Homo sapiens: one gene and its partner. The protein of the gene in region 1 purifies or fractionates together with the protein of each later gene. This does not show direct contact. Each region holds a gene or a part of one and is shown on either strand. Other genes may lie near its edges.

Region 1 (3,656 bases):
AATCTTAGAAAGAAAGTATTTAGTCTTTCACCATTATGTATGATGTTAACTGTGTCTTATTTGTATAGAGTTTACTCAGGCGTATTTTGTTGAGGATTTCTGCATCTTTATTCACAAAAGATATGGTCTGTAGCTTTCTTTTCTTGGGATATTGTTGTTTAGTTTTGGTATCAGGTTAATACTGGTCTAATAGAGTTAGGAAGTGTTTCCTTCTTTTCTAATTTTTGGAAGAGTTTGTGAATGATTCGTATTAATTTTTCTTTGAATAATTGATAGAATTCACTAGAGAAGCCATGTGGGCTAGGTTTTTCTTGGTGAGAAGCTTTTAAATTACCAATTAAATCTCTCCTTATAGGTCTGTTGATTTTGTATTTTTTTGTTGAATCAGTTGTGGTAATTTGTACCTTTTAGTAATTTGTCCATTTCATCTGAAGTATCTAAGTTATTGGCATATAGTTGTTCATAGATTCACCCATAATGCTTTTTATTTTGTAAGATTGGTGATATTGTCACTTCTTTCTTTATTTTAGTTATTTAAATCTTCTCTTTTTTCCTTGGTCAGTCTAAAAGTTTGTCAATTTAGATGATCTTTTCAAAGAACCAGCTTTTGTTTTATTGATTATGTAGTTTTATGTATCTATTTATCAGATATTTATCAAGTACTGCATATACAGTCATGAACAAAACAGACATGTTTCTACTCTTTCAAAACTGTTAGTCTAGTGGGAAAGGTAGACACTAAGTAAATTTATACTTGTCATGGTCATTAATGCTGTGAAAGAAAAGAACAGGGTGCTATGAAAGGGAGGGACAGGAAGAACTGACTTTAGACCAAGGGACCAGGAAAGAGTTCTGGGAAGATGACATTTAAACAGAAAGGAACAGGTGAGAGGGCATTGGGGAGAGAGAGTTAGTATTGGGGTATTTGTATGTGTCAGGGTGGGGAGGTCTGGGGAGAATATTCTAAATGGCAGGAACAGATACATTCAGACCTCAGAGCCCTGGAGCAGGAGCAGGTGAAGAAGGTAAGTTTGGTGAGGTGGGGGGCCATGAGATGCAGGGCTCTGTGGACCATGTTAAGGAATGTGAGTGTCATTTAATCTATTACAGACTTACTACTTTGATTTGTGAAAATTAAATGATACAGACCTGTCTCAAAAACCAACTATAAACTATCCAGAGTTTTCTATGGCACCAAGAATAAAGTCCAAAGTCCTTCCAGTGGCCTAGAAGGCCCTGTAGCCCTGTGATATCTGGCCTTACTAACCTCTGACCTCATCTTGCCATTCTTCAGCCACACTGGTTCAATCAGACTTCCCACATATGCCAGGCTGAGGCCCTTGGCACTTGCCATTTTTTTTGGTGAGCACGCTGTCTTCATAGATCTTTGCCTCTCTGCTCCTTGACATTCAGAGCTCAGCTGAAGTATGTAGTGGTGGTTGCCCAAAGGCTGCTGAAGATTTTAGCTATAGCCTCTGAGGATATCCTCTAATCTCAGAGGGCTGGTGGTATCTTATGGTCTGTTTCAGCAGGGGGTTGTGCTTCTTGGAACCCACCAAGTTCTCCTTTTCTTCCTACGCTGTGTTTCCTCCTCCCACCTCCTTCTTCCCCAATTCCTTCCTCTTGGAACTTACCCTCAGTTCCTGTGCTGGGGACTCTCGTGGCCACTGTGTTTTGCGGGAGCAGAGAACATGGTACTTTTCTTTTTAGCTGTTTTCCCGTCACATACATTCCTCTCTACTTAAATGTTCAAAAGTCAAGTGAAATACTTCAAATGAAATTCCAAGTGAAGATTCTGGTTTTAGGAACTGACTGGGTCAATACAAAGAATTTTTTACTTACCCTGCTCAGACAGAGTAGACCAAATCCTGGGAGGAGAGTTTGCACAGGTGTTTAGTGTCTAGATGCAAGATTATATAAGAGATCATATGCTGACCAGATCAGAGCATAAATCTGTTTTTTAATTAAAAAATAAAGAAATACAGACTTCTCCCAACATTTTGTATTCTGATTGCCAAATGCAGACATGTACATTCCATGTAGAAAAAGTTCCTGGCAGGGGATTTGATATGATTTGGCTCTGTGTCCCCACCCAAATCTCATCTTGAATTGTAATCCCCATGTGTGGAGGGAGAGACCTGAAGGGAGGTGATTGGATCATGGGGGTGGTTTCCCCCATGCTGTTCTCCCGATAGTGAGGGAGTTCTCATGAGATCCAGTGGTTTCAAAAGTGGCAGTTTCCCCTGCACTCTCTCTCTCCCGCCGCCACGTGAAGAATATCCTTGCTTCCCTTCTGCCTTCCACCATGATTGTAAGTTTCCTGAGGCCTCCCCAACAATGCGGAACTGTGAGTCAATTACACCTCTTTTGTTTATAAATTATCCAGTCTCAGGTAGTTATAGCAGTGTGAAAATGGACTAATATAGGATTCTCACCCAGTCAGGGTCATGGATTTCTTTTCTGGAGCAGAAATTTTTCTCCCATCATACATATTTTATGGGAATGAAGAAAGGAGAAGGAACTAGTGTTTTGTCTTTATACTAAAGAAAAAAATGAAAAGAATATTAATTAAAATAATTAGGCAACAAAACTGGGGAGTATAAACACACCATTTTTGATACTGGCAATGAAAACAACCAAGTAAACTGGAAGTGTTAGAAACCCTTTATAAAGGGACACAGTATTAGTTCATAGTGCTGGGATCTATGAAAACACAAATTCCGATAATAAGAAATATCCATTGTGTGTAAGAAATTTCAATATGTATGAGTGAAAGATAGTTTGAGGGTTGTATGTATGTGTGTGTGTGTGTTTTAATACTACAAAAAAATAAGAAAAAAGTACTTCTCTAATTAGGCCAAGCAGGGCTATGCCTATTTGCAGGTGGGGAAGTAAGGATGTGGCTGGGACTGGTTGCAGCGGCTCATGTCTGTAACCCCAGCTCTTTGGGAGTCTGAGGTGAGTGGATAACTTCAGGCCAGGAGTTTGAGACCAGGCTGGCCAATATGGTGAAACCCAGTATCTACTAAAAACAAAAACAAAAATCAGCTGGGTATGGTGGCACATGCCCGTGTCCCAGGTACTCAGGAGGCTGAAGCAGGAGAATCGCTTGAACCCAGGAAGCAGAGGTGGCAGTGAGCTAAGATGGCACCATTGCATTCCAGCCTGGGTGACAGAGCAAGACTCCATCTCAAAAAAAAAAAAAAAAAAAAAAAAAGTGGCCGGGAGCTGAAGAGCAGCTCCAGGAGAGGCTCAGGAGGGCCAGGCACAACCCAGGTTCACCTTGCAAAACTGCTCTGGTTATGTTTCTTGTTTCTTTTTCTTTTCCTTTTTTTTTTTTGAGACAGAGTCTTGCTCTGTCAGCCAGGCTAGAGTGCAGTGGCGCCATCTCAGCTCACTGCAACTTCCACCTCCAGGGTTCAAGCGATTCTTGTGCCTCAGCCTCCCGAGTAGCTGGGATTACAGGTGCCTGCCACCGCACCTGGCTAATTTTTGTATTTTTAGTAGAGACGGGGTTTCACCATCATGGTCAGGCTGGTCTCGAACTCCTGACCTCGTGATCCACCCACCTTGGCCTCCCAAAGTGCTGGGATTACAGGCGTGAACCACTGTGCCTAGCCTGGTTACGTTTCTTTAGGCAGGAATGGAGCCTGAGC
Region 2 (3,656 bases), on another chromosome or scaffold:
CTGAAAAATAGTAGTCTATAACATATTATCTGACTCACTACCTACCACTAAGCCTTGCACATGATAAACATGCAAAATAAATACAAGTGAAAATTTAACTCCTCTATATATTGCTTTTTCCAGTAGTAAGCCATCCTCAGATAGATATTTTTTAAATGTTAAGAATGCTGGTTTGACGAGTTGCTCCTTTGTAGGCATATTCCACAGTTGGGACACCAGATTACATTGCTCCAGAAGTATTCATGCAGACTGGTTACAACAAATTGTGTGACTGGTGGTCTTTGGGAGTGATTATGTATGAAATGCTAATAGGTATGTTTTATCATTCATTTATGTACAAAATATATACATTTCCTTGAGTGCCATTGTTTGAACATATTACAGATATCATTGACTAAAATATTTGAAGTCTTTTAAGCTTAATTCTGATGTTCCCCCAATGTTAAATACATACTGATCAATACCAGTGAGCTCCCCACGGATCCTGTTTCAGGAAGGTGGGTATTTAACCCAAACTCCCACGTATAAAAGTGGTTATCTACATAGCTTTTCAGGTAAAAGGGGAGGCAGTGCTTTCAATCCTTTATTTTATTGACTTTATTAGCAACGTGATTGTAAATTGATGAATGGTGGCATTTTTGACTGTTAAATAGAGCACTCAGGGTTGTTTGGTTTCTTGTCGCACATGTTTGGTGGGTATAAACTTCACTGCTCACAAAGCTGATGAAACATTTTTGATTTATTTGATACATAGGATATCCACCTTTCTGCTCTGAAACACCTCAAGAAACGTACAGAAAAGTGATGAACTGGAAAGAAACTCTGGTATTTCCTCCAGAGGTACCTATATCTGAGAAAGCCAAGGACTTAATTCTCAGGTTAGTGGTTAAATTCCTAGAGGAGTTCATAGTGTCTTAAAACTTCCTAAGAACCTAAAAGACTCATTTCACTTTTGTGGGGGAAGAGGGGATACCACTGATGTATACAGTCAAAGAGATCAATAAAGGTGTTTTTAAAAATGTAAACTCTTAAAAGGAAGTATGCAGAAAAAAACGTAGGAATTAAAAAGAGGGAGGAAGTCTTGTATTGCTTCTGTTACTGATATATATAAAAGCAAAAGGTCACTTCTGTTAGAATGCAATGACCTGATTCCATTAAAGAGAAAAAGGAAAATGTTAATAGCAGATTCCTGTCATGAAAAGTATATATGTAAAATCTTCTAAGCAAAAAATTCCATGTGTTCCTCAACTAATATGAAGTGTTTTGGTACTGCTGTGAATGGCTGGAAGGAATATAAATTGGGACAACTTGTGGGAATAGCCAGTTGGCAGCATATTATTTTTTTAAAATCCCTAAACTATGTATGACCTTTGACCCAGAAGTTCTACTTCTAGGGATTTCGCTTATGCAGATAATCAGATACGTATAAAGATTTAGGTACACTATGATTTTCATGGTATTTAATAGTGAAAATTGAAAACTATTTAAATGTTCAACAGTAGTGGACTGGCTCAATAGTAGACTGTCTATAATACCTCTATATGTAAATTTTAGAAAACAAATTTATTGGCTGGGCACAGCAGCTCATGCCTGGAATCCCAACACTCTGGGAGGCCGAGTTGGGCAGATCACAAGGTCAGGAAATCAAAACCATCCTGGCTAACATGGTGAAACCCCGTCTCTACTAAAAATACAAAAAATTAGCCGGGCGAGGTGGCGGGCGCCTGTAGTCCCAGCTACTTGGGAGGCTGAGGCAGGAGAATGACATGAACCCGGGAGGTGGAGCTTGCAGTGAGCTGAGATCACGCCACTGCACTCCAGCCTGTGTGACAGAGCGAGACTCCGTCTCACAAACAAACGAAAAAAAAATTTATTGAAAAATATTTAATGACTTTGGCAAATTTTCTCAGTATATCAAGTGAAAAAAAGCAGACCTAACATAGTAACTATGGTAGCAACACAGTATTTTTAATATTGTAAAAGATTAGCATATTTACAGTAGTTATCTCTAAACAGTGCGCTTACAGATGATTTTTATTTTCTTCCACATTTCCTACAATAAACATAGTTAACATCAATAAAAGAAAAACATTATATTTCTTTAAAAAAGAAATATTTGAAGTAATGCAGCTAGAATACTTTAGATGTAACTTGTGTATGATAATTTCTCTGTTTCCATGTTGTAGATTTTGTATTGATTCTGAAAACAGAATTGGAAATAGTGGAGTAGAAGAAATAAAAGGTCATCCCTTTTTTGAAGGTGTCGACTGGGAGCACATAAGGTATGTTCCTAGGCTTTGAATGGGAAAGGTCTGAGTAAAAACAAATTTCTAGAGTTGGCAATTAATTTACCTCTGATTCTGCTAGATTAAATACAAAAGTAACATATAATGTCATTAAGTGCAGTGTTTTCTGGATTATGTAAGTGAGTGGGACTATTGTGGCTACAGCTTGATGACTCATTTTAGGCTAACATCCACTTTCAGGGAAGAACATTGGGAAGCTGTTTAAATTCTTATATTCATATTCACAGTGAAGGCTGTTAGCACATGAAACATGTATTTACATTTCACACAGTGACCCCTCATTTTTGTCCTTGCTGTAATATACCACATACTGTCTCCTTAATTAATTTATAATAAGGTACAGTCCCTCTTTAAACGGTGGTTGGGCATTAAATAATACAAGTAACTTTTAAGAATTTGCTTACAGTTGTTAATTGTGAGCATTGGCTTTTTTCAGTTTATGGCCAAACTACCATTGGTAGTTCTGATCTGTTCTCCACACAGCAACAGTTTAGAAGCATAAATCTGGCCATGCCACTTTCCTGTGGCCTTTTGCACTTGGAATACAGTTAAGAAGCCTTCACTGCTTTCTTAGGACTGCAGGATATGGCGATTGCCTCATCTGCAGGAGTTGCGTCTTGGATGGCCTCTCCTACTCCTCTTCCCACCTCTAAGTTTTGCTATTTGCTATCCATCCTGACTGAAATGCCCTCTCCCTGCTGCCTCTACCCCTACCCTGCCTAGCTGGCTCCTTTGCATCTTCCAAGATAGCTTATGTGTCATTTCCTTGGTACAGCTCTTCACTGGTGAACCTGCTGTGTGCTAGGCACTCTGCCTATTATTATTACTTATTTTTTTGAGACAGGGTCTCACTCTGTCGCCCAGGCTGGAGTGCTGTGGCATGATCATGGCTCACCGCAGCCTCGACCTCCAGGCCTCAAATGATCCCCCCACCTCATCCCCGCAAGTAGCTGGAACTATAGGCATGTGCCACCACACCCAGCTAATTTTGTTGATTTTTTTTTTTTTTTTTTTTTTGTAGAGATGGGGTTTCACCATGTTGCCCAATTGCCCAGGCTGGTCTTGAACTCCTGAGCTCAAGCGATCCACCTGCCTCGGCCTCCCAAAGTGCTGGGATTACAGGCGCCTAGCCCACTCTGCCTGTTGTAATAATAGCTAATTTTTAAAAATCATTTATTGTGTCCAGCACTGTTTTAAGTACTTTACTTGCGTTTCTCATCTTATCCTCATATAAGCTCTATAAAATAGGAACTGTTATTATCCCTGTCTTACAAGTGAGGAAACTAAGGCACAGAGAAGTTAAGTAATGTGACTATAGTGCTGCAGCTAGTAATTTTTTTTTTTTTTTTT

Evidence for each region. The genes of interacting proteins can lie anywhere in the genome.
Region 2: the proteins of NTPCR (region 1) and STK38L purify together in Homo sapiens (pull-down; one large-scale study listed by IntAct). This does not show direct contact.

What each region holds. Positions count from the first base shown.
Region 1 is NC_000001.11:232,957,022-232,960,677, forward strand, and holds part of NTPCR (cancer-related nucleoside-triphosphatase), read left to right. Parts: intron 1-3,656. UniProt on the Homo sapiens protein: Has nucleotide phosphatase activity towards ATP, GTP, CTP, TTP and UTP. Hydrolyzes nucleoside diphosphates with lower efficiency.
Region 2 is NC_000012.12:27,317,142-27,320,797, forward strand, and holds part of STK38L (serine/threonine-protein kinase 38-like), read left to right. Parts: intron 1-194; coding exon 195-312; intron 313-754; coding exon 755-878; intron 879-2,186; coding exon 2,187-2,282; intron 2,283-3,656. UniProt on the Homo sapiens protein: Involved in the regulation of structural processes in differentiating and mature neuronal cells.